Linked DNA regions of Homo sapiens: region 2 is linked to region 1. The links come from fine-mapping of genetic effects on gene expression. A gene starts in region 1. The other region holds a variant in brackets. All regions are shown on one strand. Distances are from middle to middle. Region 1 holds the start of FLT3 (fms related receptor tyrosine kinase 3). Region 2 overlaps FLT3 (fms related receptor tyrosine kinase 3).

Evidence for each region. PIP is the estimated chance that this variant, and not a neighbour inherited with it, causes the effect. A credible set is the group of variants that fine-mapping cannot tell apart.
Region 2: its variant is the best candidate, but not a certain one, in a credible set for the expression of FLT3 in cerebellar hemisphere (GTEx, PIP 0.90).

The regions. Positions count from the first base shown.
Region 1 is chr13:28,096,559-28,105,732 of GRCh38, reverse strand. FLT3 (fms related receptor tyrosine kinase 3) reads left to right here and starts at 5,157. Exons shown (of 24, transcript NM_004119.3): 1 at 5,157-5,265. The coding sequence starts at 5,223. RefSeq lists an enhancer at 4,744-4,873 and silencers at 4,984-5,043, 5,164-5,323.
Region 2 is chr13:28,022,787-28,031,960 of GRCh38, reverse strand. FLT3 (fms related receptor tyrosine kinase 3) reads left to right here. Exons shown (of 24, transcript NM_004119.3): 16 at 3,673-3,783; 17 at 4,720-4,873; 18 at 7,018-7,100; 19 at 8,484-8,611. Among named protein-coding and RNA genes, the nearest start is that of URAD, 39 kb to the right of the region's middle. RefSeq lists enhancers at 8,490-9,022, 9,023-9,174. The variant C/T (reference allele first, on the strand shown) is at 4,104.

The DNA of each region.
Region 1 (9,174 bases):
TGACTGGCCTCAAACTTCTTTAATTTTCCTTTTTTTTTTTGAGTTGGAGTCTTGCTCTGTCGCCCAGGCTAGAGTGCAATGGCACCATCTCGGCTCACTGCAACCTCCGCCTCCTGGGTTCAAGTGATTCTCCTGCCTCAGCCTCCCTCCCAAGTAGCTGGGATTACAGGTGCGTGCCACTGTGCCCGGCTAATTTTTGTACTTTTAGTAGAGACGGGGTTTCACCATGTTGGCCAGGCTGGTCTCAAACTCCTGACCTGTGATCCGCCCGCCTCGGCCTCCCAAAATACTGTGATTACAGGCATGAGCCACCGCACCCGGCCTTTAATTTTCTTTTGTTGTGAAATACATCATATTCACAGCAGTGTGTAAAAATAATTACATAGTTTAAAGAATAACAATAAAATGAACATCCAGCACCCACCACAGAGGTTAAAAAAAAATAGGGTGTGGTTGGACATGGTGGTCCACACCTGTAGTCCCAGCTACCCAGAGGCTTGAGCCCAGGAGTTCAAGGCTGCAGTGAGCTATGGTCGTGCCTGTGAATAGCCATTACACTCCAGCTTGGGCAGTGTAGCAAGACCCTATCGCAAAACAACAATAGGGTATGTTAGCACCTCAGAAATCCCCAGTTTGTCTTCTCTAATTAAACCTCCTCTTCCCACCCCATACCAGACGTAACCACAATCCTGACTTTTGTGGTAATTATTCCTTTACTTTCCTTATACCCCTATGAATGTATTCCTAAGGAGAATATTGTTTGCTTCCGCCTTTATGTCTATTATTCCATGACTTGCTTTTCCCCCTCAACATTATGTTTTTGAGATTCATTCATGGTGTGTCAGGTAACTGTAGCTCATTCATTTACACTGTTATTTAATATATAGGTATTTTATTATGACTGTACTGCAATTTATCCTTTTGTTGGTGGGCATTTAGATTGTTCCCAATTTTTTGATATTATAAACAATAATGCTATGAACATTCTTATACTTGTCTCTTGGCACATATGTGTTTCTTTGAGGTTTATATCTGGGGGTGAAACTGCTGGCTGGAGGATATGTTCAACTTTAGTAAGATATGCCAAATTATTTTTCAAAGTGCTCACACCCATTGGGATGTCCACCAACAGTGTGTGGGTGTTCTCCATTGCTCTGAATTCTTGTCAACACTTTGTATTGTCAGATTTTGCCAATTGGTGAGTTCAAAGCCCCTATTAATAAAAGATGTGTAAAATTATACTATAAAGTTGATATCTCAACTGAACTCACATGAACCCTATTCAAATATTCCTTTTGTTTGTCCCTGATTTTCAGGAAAACATAAGGCTTTGTAAGTTAAAAATGACATGAAAGTATTTCACCTGTGAGCTGCTACGAAACTATGTCACAATTTTTGGAGAGAGAGAGGAAAGGGAGAGGAGATATTTGTGTGACTTAAGGGGTGGAAACATGGTATCAAGATGCTGGTAAGATAGATGACCACTTACTCATGGCTAAGCATCATGGTGCTAAGAATCTAGATAAAATACATCCTTTCGTAGAGTTAGCACTAGACACTCCATTCAACCCAGAAACAAACTTACTCTTCTCTTTTCCGATTTCCCGTTTCAGCTCATTTCTTCTAGTTGCTTTTGACCCTTTAAGAGTTTCTTTATTACAGAATTCCTATCATGAACTCTGACACCAAAATTTCATACTTGGGCATGCATACCTGGGCGTGTAATCCAGGACTCTAGACAATTTCAGGCTACTTTCCTTAAGTGTTGCTGTGAGGAAGAAATTAGTTCTCATATTAGATATGACTCTTGGCACATCACAGAAAAACATGGGCATTACTTCACCTTCTGTTAGCCTATACCTCATACTCCAAAATATTTCAGTCTATAAGATTTGCTCCTTCTAGAATTATTTTTTCCACCAATTTCCACGGAAAATCAAGTGTTCCTAGAAACCATTCCTGGCTGGCCGCGGTGACTCACACCTGTAATCCCAGCACTTTGGGAGTCCAAGGAGGGTGGATCACGAGGTCAGGAGTTTGAGACCAGCCTGGCCAAGATGGTGAAACCCTTCTCTACTAAAAATACAAAATTAGCTGGGCGCAGTGGCGGGTGCCTGTAATCCCAGCTACTCAGGTGGCTGAGGCTGGAGAATCGCTTGAACCCGGGAGGCGGAGGTTGTAGTGAGCCTAGATCGTGCCACTGCACTCTAGCCTGGGCGACAGAGCAAGACTCTGTCTCAAAAAAAGAAACCATTCCTAACTTCTCCTCTCTCACCAACCCCCTTTTTCATGAAGATCTCTGCCTTGTGTCCAAGATTCTTGGACAAAGCAGCAGTATCTTTATGATTTTGTATCCTGAATACTGCTGCACTCAAGCTGATGTTCTGCAAATTTGTAATAATCAGTTTCATTTTTTTTTTAGTTTTTCATTTTATTTATTTATTTTTTTGAGACGGAATCTCCCTCTGTCGCCCAGGCTGGAGTGTAGTGGCGCGATCTTGGCTCACTGCAACCTCCGCTCCCCAAGTTTAAGCAATTCTCTGCCTCAGCCTCCTGAGTAGCTGGGATTACAGGCGTATGCCACCACGCCTGGCTAATTTTTTGTATTTTTAGTAGAGACAGGTTTCACCATCTTTGCCAGGCTGGTCTTGAACTCCTGACCTCGTGATCCACCTGCCTTAGCTTCCCAAAGTGCTGGGATTACAGGCATGAGCCACTACGCCCGGCGAAGACCAAGTCTTGCTCTGTTGCCCAGGCTGGAGTGCAGTGGCATGATCTCAGTTCACTGCAACATCTGCTTCCTGGGTTCAAGCAATTCCCCTGCCTCAGCCTCCCAAGTAGCTACGACTACAGTGCCACCATGCCCAGCTAATTTTTGTATTTTTGTTAGAGATGGGGTTTCACCATGTTGGTCAGGCTGGTCTCCAACTCCTGACCTCAAATGATCCACCCGCTTTGGCCTCCCAAAGCGCTGGGATTGCAGGCATGAGCCACAGCGCCCAGCCAATCAGTTTCCTTTAAGACAGTAATTGAGCTTTAAATAGAAGGTAGTGTGTTAGGTCTTGGCCATTGGAAGCTCGCTTTTCTCCCCATAACCAGCCTGTTTCATTGCTTTATCTCCTCATGTTTCACTTATTTCAGGCCATCTTCCTTCACTTCTGTTTCTGACCTAAGGTAGACACAACACTCTTTAAAAAAATTTTTAAACCCCCAGCAGCTACACAAAAACTTAAAAAATTTAAAATTGAGGTAAAATACACATACATAAAATTTACCATCTTAACTTTTTGTTTTTGTTTTTGTTTTTGAGACAGAGTCTCACTCTGTCACCCAGGCTGGAGTGCAGTGGTGTGATCTCAGCTCACTGCAGCCTCTGCCTCCCGGGTTCCAGTGATTCTCCTGCCTCAACCTCCCAGGTAGCTGGGATTACAGGCATGCGCCACTACGCCTGGCTAATTGTTGCATTTTTGTAGAGATGGGGTTTCACCATGTTGGCTAGGCTGGTCTCGAACTGCTGACCTCAGGTGATCTGCCCACCTCGGCCTCCCAAAGTGCTAGGATTACAGGCATGAGCCACCGCACCCAGCCTTAGCCATTTTTAAGTGTACAGTTTAGTAGCGTTAAGTACATTCACATTGTTGTGCAACCAGTCTCCAGAACTCTGCTCATCTTGCAAAACTGAAACTCTGTATCCATTAAACACTGGCTCCCCATTTCCCCCTGCCCCCAGCCCATGGTAACCACCATTTAACTTTCTGTCTTTATGAATTTGTAATGGGATACAGTATTGTATTTTTTGGGACTAGCTTATTTCACTTAGCATAATGTCAAGATTCATCCATATTTTAGCTGTATCAGAATTTCCCTCCTCTTTAAAGCTGAAAAATACTCAGTCGTATGTATATACTGCATTTTTGTTTATCATTCATCTGTTGTGGACATGGGTTACTTCTGCCTTTTGACTACTGTGAATAATGCTGCTTTCAACACGGGTGTACAGACATCTCTTCAAGACCCTGCTTTCAATTCTTTTGGCTACATGGCCAGAAATGGAATTGTTGGACCGTATTTTTTTTAATTTTTTGAGAAACCTCTATAGTGTTTTCCATAGTGGCTGCACCATGGTAGACACTTCTAAAGTTTCTGCCATACCCTAGGGGAAAGAATTATTGTACTGTAGACAACATCTAAGGAAAAGAACTGTATGGCCAAGAGTAAACAGTCAATTTTCATGCTTTATTAGAAAATAATTAAAATAATTAAGAGCGTGGAATTCCTAGAATTGGGAGAGACATTATGAACCATTTGGTCCATCCCTTTCCTTTACGATGAGTAAACAGAGGTTTGTGGAGGTCAAACGGCTAGTTAAGTAAGGGAAGAACCAGAACTGGCATCCAGAGCTTTCCAATCCTCAACTTATTGCAAAGAAAATAATAATAATTTTCAACTCGAAAAATTATGCGATGAAGAACAAGAACTATTGAGCGGATGATTCGCAACATCCTCTGGGATGTATTTTCTGTGTGTTTTGTTTTGAAGGCTGTTTGTTAACCTCCCTAATTGCCTTGGTTGACATTGAAACCCTGCCTGTTTTTCTTGATCCCGCCGCTGACTGGGTCCTGAGCATCCTAGGAGATGGAGGCAGAGACAAAGGAAATCAGTCCACAATTAAGAATGGAATGGTTCTTAATGGAATGCTCGCCTGTGCGCTGGCGGGAGTTGCCAGCGTGCCGAGCGGATTCAGCGCCTTTCTCAGGGCCTCAAAGATCCCAGCGCACTAGGAGGGTGGTTTGTGGCTCCCTGCAGTCCCCACGCCCCGGATCCAAACGACAGAGTTCGGGGACTCACAGGGGCAGCAAGGCGGCAGAGCCGCGGAGCCAGTGCAACTTCTCCGGCGGGACCGCGCCCAATCTTCCCCGCCGCAGTCGGGGAGCCCCGGGGGCCGCCGAGCACAGGCTGCGGACCGCGGCGGGCACGTGGGCTCGGCTGCAGCGCTGCGCCAGGCACCGGCTGCTCGGCTCTGCCCAACCTCTCCGCTCCCGCCTCGGTCCCTGCCTCTGGGGAGAGGGTTCCTCCCCCCTTCCACTTTGCACCAGTCCGAGGGAATTTGCGGTCGGTGACGCGCATCCTTAAGAGAGCCACCTGCAGCGCGAGGCGCGCCGCTCCAGGCGGCATCGCAGGGCTGGGCCGGCGCGGCCTGGGGACCCCGGGCTCCGGAGGCCATGCCGGCGTTGGCGCGCGACGGCGGCCAGCTGCCGCTGCTCGGTAAGGCCCCGCTCGCTCGCTCGCAGCCCCTCGCGGTCCCTCAGCCCCCACCCCGCAGTGTGGACCCGGGCGCGCGCCTCCTCCGGCCCAGCCGCCTCGCTCCTCCCCGCGCTCGCTCCTTCCATTGCCTCCCGCGCCCCTCCCCTCTTTCGCGCCCTCCGGACTCGCCCACTACTTGCCTGCGGCCCCGGCGTTTCCCACCCCGCGTCCTCTTCCCTCTTCTCCGAAGTCTCTCCTCTGGCTCGGGCCGCGGTCCCGAGTGGCGGCCCGGACTTCGCAGACGGCCTCGCCGAGGCGCTGCGCCGGGTCTGGGGCAGCTCGGCCCGCGCGCTCGGGTGCTGGGCCGTCCGTGGGAGTCTGCGGCCGCGAACTCGGCGCCAGGTGGCCAAGGACCTCTCCTGGCCCGGCCCTTGGATACTGTAGACACCTGGGTGTCGTCTTTAACTCTTCTTTTGAGGTTTTGATTTATGGAGGGAACTCTGATGGGAAAATGCGTCCGCGTTCTCCCCTAGAGCGAGTCATCCTCAATAACGATACCCCCCAGCCCCGCCGAATTTTGGTTGGATCAACGAATAGTTTACCTAGGAAATATTATGCAAACAGATTTACATATTAAAATACTAGCTGTCCCTTTCTTCTAGTCTCTTCTTATCCTGGCATAAACCCCAAAGGGGTTTTCAAGGACTCCGAGGACTGTCCCCAAAGAATCTGCTGGGTAGCATAGTTGTTATTGAAAAAAAAAATCTTCCCATCGGTTCGCGTCAGCTTTCTATTTGGAAAGATGAGAGGACTGAATCGAATTTGGGTTGAAGGCGACAGAGTTCTGGGTGCCCGGCAGCTCCGGTCCCTGTCCTAGGTCTGCAACCTTGGGACTGACACTCACCTCCCCCGGCCTCCGCGTCCTCATCTGTGCAGTGAGGGAGTCCGTCCGAGTCCCCTTCAGCTCTGAAATGCTAGGACTTGAAGTCTCTGTGGTAAATAGAGAAAATGCTTGCAATATAGAAGTGCAGGAATTATATCCAATAGCTTTTGTTACAAATAATTCTGAAATATAAAAAGTAAAAAATGGAAATCGGGGGAAAAGAGTTGAAAAACAAAGACATTTTAGTTCTTAAATAGTTATCTTTACTAGTTAGTAAATCTGTAATTTCAAATGTGTAGTACAATATGTTTTCCAGATTCCGTTAATACAAAATGTTAGCTTTCTATTATGTATGATATTAAGTAGTAAGTGCATTTTTCAGAAGCATAATGGGCTTTCTAAAGGTATAAGCATCAATACTTGCAACGATATTTAAGCTGCATGGAATTCTTTTCTATTTAGGAAAGAATTCAGAAATTTCTATGTCTCTCTCTCCAGATATTTCTAAATGAAGTATAATTGGCACACAGTAAATATGCACACATCTTAAGAGTACAATTTCATTAGTTTTCACATATGTACGTGCCCAAATAACCACGATCAGACTGAGATATAGAGCAATTCTAGCTCCACCCTCTCTGTCAGTACCCCCTCCCCAGGTAGCCACTATTCTGACTTCTGATGCCATGGATTGCTTTTGCCTATGTTTGAACTTCATGTAAACCAAACCATCATCGTGTGCTCTTTTATGTCCACCTTCTTTTACTCAACATTATAATAATAAGATTCAACCTTGTTCTCTGTAGCAGTGTTTTTTTTTTTAATTGCTGGTACCATTCCGTGGTATGAATAGATCTTATAATTTATTTTATCCATTATGTTCACGAAGCACATGGAAGTTGTTCCAATTTTGTGTAATTATGCATAGCACTGCTGTGAACATTGTTTTATATATGGTGGACATAAACACCAGTATAAAGGATTATGCCCACAAGTAGAATTCCTGGATCATAGGGAAGGGATATGTTCAGGTTTGGTAGATACCGTCAAACGGTTTTCCACAGTGGTTACACCAATTTCCACTCCCACTAGCAGTGTATGGCAGTTCCAGTTCCTCACATCTTTGCCAATACTTTGTATTATGGATTTTCTTGAATAAAGAAGGATAAAGTGAGAAGCTTAAACATGAGAACTTTAAAATGGTTAATAGCCTTAAATTCTTTGAATTAGAACATGGGATCCCAATTTCCCTTATATTGTAAACACTACTTTTTTTTTTTTTTTTTTTTTTGAGACGGAGTCTTGCTCTGTCACCCAGGCTGGAGTGTAGTGGCGCGATCTCAGCTCACTGCAACCTCCGCCTCCCAGGTTCAAGCGATTCTCCTGCCTCAGCCTCCTGAGTAGCTGGGATTACAGGTGCGTGCCACCGCACCCAGCTAATTTTTGTATTTTTAGTAGAGACGAGGTTTCACCATGTTGGCCAGGCTGGTCTCGAACTCCTGACCTTAGGCGATCCACCCACCTCAGCCTCCCAAAGCGCTGGGATTACAGGTATGAGCCACCACACCCGGCCATGCCCAGACTTCTATTCATCATTTATGAATAATGATGAAGCTTTCTAAGTGGCATTTGAAGGAGAGGAACATGTTCCCAATGGGCTTTTCTGCATTATCTGCTGATACTGGACAGAGAGAAGTATTTCAATATTTTAAGAGCTATGATACTACCTTTTTCATTAGTGTTAAAAAAAATTCGTATTCAAAGCCTTGAACTGCACATTTGAGTTGCCATTCTTTGCTCTTGTTGCTTATCTTAGTTTATTTGCCTTCTTGGAAACTCCTAGCCCAAGGGGGAATGATTCAGGAGAAAGTGGAGGGAAGGGACACTCAGCAAAGCTTGGTTTGGATTGGATGTGAGCCCAGACCTGCCGACCTGACATTAATGTCCCCTCTGACTCTGAAACTCTAGTTCTAATTTTTGCCATTATATAGGTGTAGATTGGATATTCATTTCTTTTTAGGTACTTCACGTCTATCTATAGTAAATTATCCTCTTAGGTTTAATTGTGAACTTCTTGCCTTACATTAAAAATGGATTAACTTTTTATAACTAAGAAGGCACTTTCAGTAACTCTTAGCTATTGGTAAATATTTGTTATTGGATTCTCCTGTTGTTTAAACTGAAAAACAATCAGGCAATGAGATATTAAATGGGAAGGAGGAAGACTTACTTATATTCCAAGGGAAGACTTCAGATAAGAAAAATGAAGAGAAAACATGCATTAGGAAGAAAAAATCTGTTTTTATTTAACAAACTTTAATTGAATACCCATTTTTTTCCTTCCTTCCTTCTTTCCTTCCTTCCTTTCTTTCTTTCTTTTTCTTTCTTTCTTTCGACAGTCTCCCTTTGTCATTGAGGCTGGAGTGCAGTGGTGTGATCACAGCTCACTGCAGCTTCAACCTCCTGGGCTCAAGCAAGCCTCCTACCTCAGCCTCCTGAGTACCTGGGACCACAGGCACGTGCCACCACACCTCATTAATTTTTTGAAAAATTTTTTGGTAGAGATGAGATCTCACTGTATTGCTCAGGCTAATCTTGAACTCCTGGGCTCAAGTGATCCTCCCAAAGTGCTAGGATTACAGGTGTGAGCTACCGTGCCTGACAGAATACCTATTTCTTGCTAGGCACAAGCAGTACAAAGATTAAAGAGATGGAGGTAGGGGAACTTGTGTATAAATAACCAATTTTATTTTTTTAAGAAATGTGTGGTCATTGCCTTTCCCCAGGAAAAGTATTTCAGTATGCTTTCTTTTATTAAACCTTCCAACACAGTTATTATGATTACTAAATATACATTAAAAATTGCATGAGTCTGGCTGGGTGCGATGGCTCATGCCTGTAATCCCAGCACTTTGGGAGGCTGAGGCAGGCAGATCACTTGAGGAGTTTGAGACCAGCCTGGCCAACATGGTGAAACCCTGTTTCTACTAAAAATACAAAAGTTAGCCAGGCGTGGTGGCAGACGCTTGTAATCCCAGCTACTTGGG
Region 2 (9,174 bases), 74 kb after region 1:
TGGACAAAAGCTTCCAAAGCAGGTTCCTGTATCCACTCTTGCCTCCCTTTGGCTTCTCCATACTGAGGTCCAAGTGACAGTGGCGAAAGGCTAAGCAGATCAAATGGCTTTCCTACTTCACATTTCCTCCACCACCCGCATGGCTGGGCCACCGCTGCCTCCCCACCTCTTGCTCTCGGCACCCCAGAGCGCTGGCCTTCTTTCAGTTCCCCCAGCACTGTCCTCCCACCCACTGTGGGGCCTTTGCACAAGTGGATCCTTCTGCTTCCCCTTCCCCTTTCATGTAAGTATCTCCCACTGCCCCCTCAGATCTCAGCTTAAACACCACTTCCTCTGTCTCACACCACAGACAATATTGAGGCCCTTGCAATGTGCGACATTAGCTCTCTGCAGGCTTTCCCCCGTAGAATCCATCACCTTTGTCATGACATTTTTTAACATCCAATTGTTGTCCCATCTGTCCAGTAGCCCCTGTGCCTCATGAGGGCAGGGTCTGTGTCTGTGGTGCTGTGCTCTCTCCTTTCTCGACCTTTGCCCACTCTTTCACAACCCTCAGCACTGTTCTCCTCCCCTTCCACCATGAGTCACCTGGCCAGCTCCCATTTTTCTTCAGGACTCAGTTTAGACATTGAATGCTCCTTTCTCCACCCCTCCAAGGCTAAGGTAGCTATCCCTTTTGACCCTACAGTACCCCTGCACTCCTTTGCCACGTTGCATTTTTTCTTCTTTTTTTGAGACGGAGTCTCACTCTGTCGCCCAGGCTGGAGTGCAGTGGCACCATCTCAGCTCACTGTAAGCTCCGCCTCCTGGGTTCACGCCATTCTCCTGCCTCAGCCTCCCTAGCAGCTGGGACTACAGGCACCCACCACCACGCCCGGCTAAATTTTTTTGTATTTTTAGTAGAGACAGAGTTTCACCGTGTTAGCCAGGATGGTCTTGATCTCCTGACCTCGTGATCCGCCTGTCTCAGCCTCCCAAAGTGCTGGGATTACAGGCATGAGCCACCGTGCCCAGCCCAACGTTGCATTTTTTCTTTTTCTTTCTTTTTTCTTTTTTTGAGATAGGGTCTCACTCTGTCACCCAGGCTGGAGTGCAGTGAAGTCATCATAGCTCACGGCAAGCTTCAAGTCCTGGGCTCAAGTGATGGTCTGCAGCCTTTCCAGTAACTGGAACTACATGCAGGCACCACCAAGCCCAGCTAATTTTTATTTTATTTTATTTTATTTATTTATGTATTTTTACTTTATTTTATTTTTAAGTAGAGACAAGCTCTTGCTATTTTGCCCGGGCCTTTCTTGAACTTCTGGGTACCAGCAATTCTCCCGCTTGTCTCAGCCTCCCAAGATGTTGGGATTAGAGGCGCGGGGACCCACGTCTTGCCTGCCGTATTGCATTTATGGCACTGTATTGTCATGGCTTATTTACTTCTCTGCCTTCTCCAGGAGACTCTAAGATCCAGGAAGACAAGGGTTGTGTCTTGTTTTTCCTTCATTCCCCAGTGTCTAGGACATTGGCTCTTACAGAGTAGGCACTCAATAAATACTTGTTGAATGACTGAATGAAAGAGGTAATGGTACATGAAAATGCTTAGAAGAAGCTAAGCATGCTAAAAAATGTAAGATATTATTTTAGCCATGAGGAATAGGACATGAACAAGTAAAGCCCCGAATCCCTGTCCAGCGTGAAGCTGAAGACATGATGTATTAGGGGGTCCCAGTGCCCACAGGAAATCCCACCCCCAAGCTAAAATCTTGGAAACAAGGATACCCCTGAGAGCTTGCCCAAACCAAAATAGAGGATGTCAGCACCGGAGAAGCCACTATAAAGGTTAGGATGCCTTCCTGGACAAAATAATGGAACCTGGCAATCGAACCAAATCTTCACTGAATGTAAAGAAGAGTTACTATATCTGGAAGAAAAAGTCTGTTCACAGAGGGGTGGTGCCTGGAGCCTGGAGAGGGAAGTCCAGAGACCCTGCCCTTGCCCCTGTGGCTGCCCGGGCTGCCCTGACCAACTGCACATGAGCCGCAATGACGGGAGCCCTTGGATTCCATAGTGACTTTCCTCACACTGTGCTTCTAAGTCAGCTTATAAGTACAGTTTGCTGAGCTATCTGGAATTTTCCCTAGAGAGAGAATGCATTGGCCAACCAATATGTTCTAGCCTGCTTGGCAGTTTTATTTCTCAATGTCAATTAATGGGTCTCTTGAGCACCTGATAGTGGGAATTAGTCCTCTTTGACCTTCTCCCATTGGACTTGCTGGCAAATCTAATGTTCTAGACCTGAGGGCCACAGGCTAGAGTCAACCATGCTCACGACACTGTTATCTCTCTCTGACTACAACAGATCCAAGAGTTCAAACAAACAAACAAAAAGGACGTTTCTCCCTTCTGTTAACTTGTACTGAGGAGGAAAAGCATGTGTTATTATTTTGTTTGTTTGTTTTGAGGGCCAACTGTAAGGATTTTTATTTTGGTAGGTAGAGGAAAGTCCTGTTGAAAGGTGCATTACCAGATTCAACATTTATACTATAGTCTTTGTTTTGTTTTGTTTTGTTTTGTTTTTGAGACAGAGTCTCGCTCTGTCACCCAGGCTGGAGTGGTGCAGGGGCTCAATCTCGGCTCACTGCAACCTCTGCCTCCCCAGTTCAAGGGATTCTTTTGCCTCATCCTCCTGAGTAGCTGGAATTACAGGTACGCACCGGCACGCCCGGCTAATTTTTTGTATGTTTAGTAGAGACAGGGTTTCACCATGTTGGCCAGGTTGGTCTTCAACTCCTGACCTTAAGTGATCCACCCGCCTTGGCCTCCCAAAGTGTTGGGATTACAGGTGTGAGCCACTGCGCCCAGCCCTATACTACAGTCTGAATTCTGCCTTAGGCTGGGCATGGTGGCTCATGCCTGTATTCCCAGCACTTTGGGAGGCGGAGTTGGGAGGATTGCTTGAATCTAGGAGTTCAAGACCAGCCTGGGCAACATGGTGAGACCCCATCTCTACAAAAAATATAAAAATTAGCTGGGCATGATGGCCTGTGCTTGTAGTACCAGTAACTTGGAGGGCTGAGGTAGGAGGATCACTTGAGCCCAGGAGGCAGAGGCTACAGTAAGCTGAGATCATGTCACTACACTCCAGCCTGGGTGACAGAGTGAGATACTGTGTCAAAAAAAAAGAAAGAAAGAAAAGGAAAAAAAAAAAAGAAAAAGGAGAAATTCTGTCTTAAAACACAGGATATTGTTTGTTTGTTTATTTATTTATTTATTTTAAGATGGAGTTTCACTCTTGTTGCCCAGGCTGGAGTGCAATGGTGCAGTCTCAGCTAATTGCAACCTCTGCCTCCCACATTCAAGCGATTCTCCTGCCTCATCCTCCCAAGTAGCTGGGATTACAGGTGCCTGCCACCACGCCTGGCTAATTTTTGTATTTTTAGTAGAGACGAGGTTTCACCATATTGGCCAGGCCAGTCTTGAACTTCTGACCTCAAGTGATCCACCCACCTCGGCCTCCCAAAGTGCTGGGATTACAGGCATGACCCACCATGCCTGGCTTCTCTCATAATTTTGAATTTAAATAAATAATGCAGATTGACTCTGAGCTGAGAAAAATTTTATTTAATGACATAAAATTCGTATTTTACTTGAGTTTTACATTTTTAATGCTCCTTTCTTTGACAGAAAAAGCAGACAGCTCTGAAAGAGAGGCACTCATGTCAGAACTCAAGATGATGACCCAGCTGGGAAGCCACGAGAATATTGTGAACCTGCTGGGGGCGTGCACACTGTCAGGTAACCCACTTCCACGAAAATCACCTCATCAAAAAGACTGTAGCTTGATGACAAAGAGGATGTTTGCTCTCTCTCTCTCTCTCTCTCTTTTTAATTCTTTGTCTTTTCTCAGTCACAGTGTGAACTCTCAAACCCAAGTGGAATTAGACACTGAGCACTCTATAAATCAGAGGGGTCAAAATAAAGAATGCCTCATTCATCTGCTTTATCGTGATATATTGCATAATTCTCACCTGCTTAAAAACAACAACAACAACAACATTGCAAGTACATTTGGTGGTGTCTGTGCTTCTCTCCCAGCTTGGAAGCTGGTGCACAGG[C/T]GTGGTGAGAGTGGTTACAGAGCCTGGCCACTGCCCCAGTTGGGCTGCCGTCAAATACGGCACAGCCTAGCTAGGATATCAGACTTTACTTTCCCAGAATTCTCTGGGGCATGCCCTCTGATCTTCTCTCTTCTGCCTAGAAATACCCAAATGATGTGCCCAAGGTTCATTCTTTCTGCAGCAGCAGGCCTGGGGCTGGTACTAAAAGAAAGGAAAAAGAGGAAAGTGAATCTGAGAGAGGACTGGGAATATATTTCTCCCTCCTCAAGCAAACAGCAAATCAGCATATAGTTACCAAGTGTTCACCTATAATACACAGCTAGAACATTACTTTCAGTTGCCAACTGGAGAATCCAGGAGGCCAGTGGTATTGGTGAGGCCACACATACAAAAAAGGGCCACAGAGAATGTCAAGAAGATGCTGCTTTCCAAAGAAATTTGAGCAAAAGCTGAAACTGAATTTAAAGTATAAGAAGAGCTAGGCTCAGAAAAAGTTGTACTGTCCCCAAGTCAGCAGAGAACCAAGCCCTCCTAAGAGTATGTTGTCTGCTACATAGACTTCTGAAATAACAGTTTGCTTTGTGTATGCCTATAATTGAAACTGTAACTATTTCAGGACCAATTTACTTGATTTTTGAATACTGTTGCTATGGTGATCTTCTCAACTATCTAAGAAGTAAAAGAGAAAAATTTCACAGGACTTGGACAGAGATTTTCAAGGAACACAATTTCAGTTTTTACCCCACTTTCCAATCACATCCAAATTCCAGGTAAGAGGCTGGGTCAGGGTTTCGTAATTACACATCATAGAACGTAGGCAAAGTGTGCTGTTCAAACACACTTCGTTGACCAGTTTCTAAAGGCACCGTGAAGTCTGTGGGTCCTGCAACCTAGAGATTTCCTGAATCTTTGCTATAGTTTCCCTGTTGACATGGAACGAGTCCTGTCCCTTTCCTTCAGTACAGGTACTATAGCTGAGCTAGTCTCTCTCCACCCATGCCTGCATCACACCATAGACGCCTATTTGGTTTGGGGAAAGGTGCATTATTCGGTCTTTCAGGACACCTGGTTGCCTCACAGGTATTGGTAGAAAGAATGAAGACTTTTTCCAAAGTCCTTAACATATGCAAAGAGAGCAGCTCGGGTCCTGGGACTATTGCGCAAAAGAACGCTGAACTCAAATTGGATTCTAAGATATTAGGATGGATTGATCGACACGTGATGGGGACACAGTAAAGTAGCAGTAACCTTGTCTCTGCTCTGTGTTTATCCTCCGCATCCATGGGGATCCTGAGAGATGCTTGGTCCTGCAGGGATTTATTGCTTTAGCGGGCATAAATGAGGGCTGTAGGAGTTTGCTGGATCTCCTCCTCATCCTTGAACTTTCTTGCTAATTACTTGAGCATCATGGCTTTGTAGCACCTTTCTCTGAATGGATTCCCAGGCATTCTGATGGAGGCATTCGTTGAGCCTTGGAGCATTCTTTTTTTTTTTTTTTTTTTTTTCAGACAGAGTTTCGCTCTGTTGCCTAGGCTGGAGTGGTGCAATGGTGTGATCTCGGCTCACTGCAACCTCCACATCCCAGGTTCAAGCGATTCTCTTGCCTCAGCCTCCCGAGTAGCTGAGATTACAGGCATGTGCCACCACGCCCAGCTAATTTTGTATTTTTAGTGGAGACAGGGTTTCACCATGTTGGTCAGGCTGGTGTTGAACTCCTGACCTCAGTTGATCCACCCACCTAGGCCCCGCAAAGTGCTGGAATTATAGGCATGAGCCACCGCACCTGGCTGAGCCTTGGCGCGTTCTTATTTCCCTCCCTGTATGGAAGTTCTCCCTTATTCTGAAGGGTATTTGTTTATTGGAGACTTTTTTCTTTACCAGGGGCTTTTTAGGGATACATTTGAGAGTCCCGGCTTTGTTTTCTTAGAATGTAAGTTTTAAGTGCAGGCCTCTGGCCTTCCAGGTCTGAGACACAGACCCAGTGTCTTAAAGCCACCAGGCCCCACGGAGATCCCCATGCACGTCCGTGTGCAGCTGCCCTTAACCTATGCATGCCCGTCACACCGTCCTCTCCTTTACACTCATTTCCCAGCTCATCGTCTAGAAATGAGAACTCTATAAAGCCACTCATATTCTGGAACAGAGGGGCTATCCTACTGAGTCCGATGTGTGTGACCAGTATCCACTGGTCAGTACTTAGCCCCTTTGATTCGTTCTGTTCACTGGAATATTAAATACACTGAAATTATTCCTTTTGGAATATTTGTGGTCTGAAAGCATGAAGCCATTTCCTAAAGATATGTAAATTGTAAATTGGGTTAAACTCGTATATTAGAATAAATTGAATCGTGATCTACTTATAATTCCTACAGAGCTCCTCAGGGAAGAATTTTTATATACCTTAAAAGAGATTTGTATTATTGCTATTTATTAATTTCACAGTAAAAAGAAATGAGCTTTACAAAGGCAAACTGGAAAAAAGAAGGATGGTGAAACGCTTACGGGACTCTCGGGAAGATCTGTATTATGTGAGGGAAAGTGGGCTGAGTTCAGAAACCAAAGAATGAGATCGATGTGAGTCCTGGTTCCACTCGAATCATATTTATCTCACTGTGCCTAATTTCTCTTTTATAAAATGCCACCCATCTCATAGGTTGTGGCAAGGATTGAGTGAGGTCCTTTTTGAACTGTAAGATTCTATATGGAAAACAGGGATTACTTTTATCTTAGACTGGCAAGCCCAGTTACACAGATGTTTTTAATGTACACAAAAAATGGACAAATGGATGGTGTGCTTTTAATTTAAAAGTCAATTTATAACTGGAATCCATTTATTTGATGAATTACATTTTTAAAATAAAATGTCTGCTGAGAAGAATAATGTAAATAATGAAAAAACAAAATTTTTTAATAGCATGCCTGGTTCAAGAGAAGTTCAGATACACCCGGACTCGGATCAAATCTCAGGGCTTCATGGGAATTCATTTCACTCTGAAGGTAATATTTTATTCTAAGTAGTAGCACTTTAAAATGGAAATGAATGCAAAAGTTTTATGTTAGCTATTTTTTAAAAGTGTGTAAACACAAAAGCATTTTAAAATTTGCTAATTGTCAGATGATAGCTAAAAGCCAGTTTGTATACTGTAGATTTTATGTCAACATTCAACTAATAAACACTGAGGACTATTTTATTTGGTCAGATTATTCATTTAAAGTCATATATTAATTACAGCCATCTTATTACCTGACAAGTGGAAGAGATAATGAGTTCCGAAGTTACATAGAATTTGGATTAACTTCTGCTTACTTTGCTTTCTGACTGGATGACTTTGGACAAGTTATGTGACCACCAGAATCACAATTTTCTTGTTTATAAAATAGGCCTAACACTACCTTCCTCACAGGACTGTTAGAAGGAGTAAATGAGGGGCTGGCCGTGGTGGCTCACGCCTGTAATCACGCCTTGGGAGGCCGAGGCAGGCAGGTCACCTGAGGTCAGGAGTTCAAGACCAGCCTGGCCCAACATGGAGAAACCTTGTCTCTACTAAAAATACAAAAATTAGCTGGGTATGGTGGTGCACGCCTGCAATCCCAGCTACTTGGGAGGCTGAGGCAGGAGGATTGCTTGAACCCAAGAGGCAGAGGTTGCAGTGAGCTGAGATTGCACCACTGCATTCCAACCTGGGCAACAGAGTGAGACTTCAACTCAAAAAAAAAAAAGAAAGAAAGAAAAAAAAAGGAAGGAGTAAATGGAAGAATATAAAATGCACAATATAGTTTATAAAATAGGATAGATGGGCCGGGCACAGTGGCTCATGCCTGTAATCCCACCACTTTGGGAGGCTCAGGTGGGTGGATCACGAGGTCAGGAGATCAAGACCATCCTGGCTAACACGGTGAAACCCTTCTCTACTAAAAATACAAAAAATTAGCATGAGCCTGTAGTCCCAGCTACTCGGGAAGCTGAGGCAGGAGAATCCAGTTGCAGCAGGCCAAGATCGTGTCACTGCACTCCAGCCTGGGCGACAGAGCGAGACTCCTTCTCAAAAAAAAAAGGGATAGACAATTAATATTAATTCCTTTCCCACTGTGACAGCCCTACCTAGTGCAAAAGAGAAGTATCTAAAACTCCTGACTAATCAATCAGGAGGTCATCGGTCATCAAAGCAGTTCCAAAGTTTATCTCTAACCAAAACAAGTCTCCAGTGACCCTTCATAGGCAGCATAAACAGGTCATCTCTAATGCTGCCGGGAAGATAATGCGATAGCTTCATGTCTTAGCACCTCACCTAACTCTGGCTTGAATAACCTTCCCATAGAGATTTAATAAGGCAACTTCTTAGAGTTTTGGCAAAAGTGAAGACTGGCTCTATTTTACAGATGAAATTGAATATGAAAACCAAAAAAGGCTGGAAGAAGAGGAGGACTTGAATGTGCTTACATTTGAAGATCTTCTTTGCTTTGCATATCAAGTTGCCAAAGGAATGGAATTTCTGGAATTTAAGTCGGTATGCTCCTTTTAAAGAAAAAACAAACCAAAAAAAAGATTTGAAAAGATGTGCTTATATATGTTTTCTTGTTTATTTTAACTTGTATCCCTTAAAGTCTGCCTTTTCTCCCCTGTTCACTGTTGGAGTCACCTAGCGTGTTACCTTGGCTCTTGGCTAATTGTAGTAGCATAAAGGCCTGGGATCCCTTGTGAGGTCACGGCTAGCACAGCCCTCCCAGGCTGCACAAAGTCCCCTGAAACTTCCAAGGCTGAAGGTCGAGATAGGAAGTCCTCAGAAATCCTTCCTCAAAACAAAGCGTAGCATTGTCAGTCCCTTTCAGAACGGCTGTTCAGGTTGTGCCCTGCATGTGGGCATTCAACCCAGGGGATGAGAGGAGGCTGAAACCGAGCCAGCCACCCTGAGTGTCTTTGTCTAATTCTCACCCTGCGTGCTGTGGGCTGGCAGCAGTCCTGCAGGCTCACTGCCTCCTCTGTTGCTAACCCCAGATCCATTCGTTGGTAAGGCCCTGGAGCCTGCCGTGAACCATGTCTCTACCCCAATTTTGCACTCTTTTTGAACTG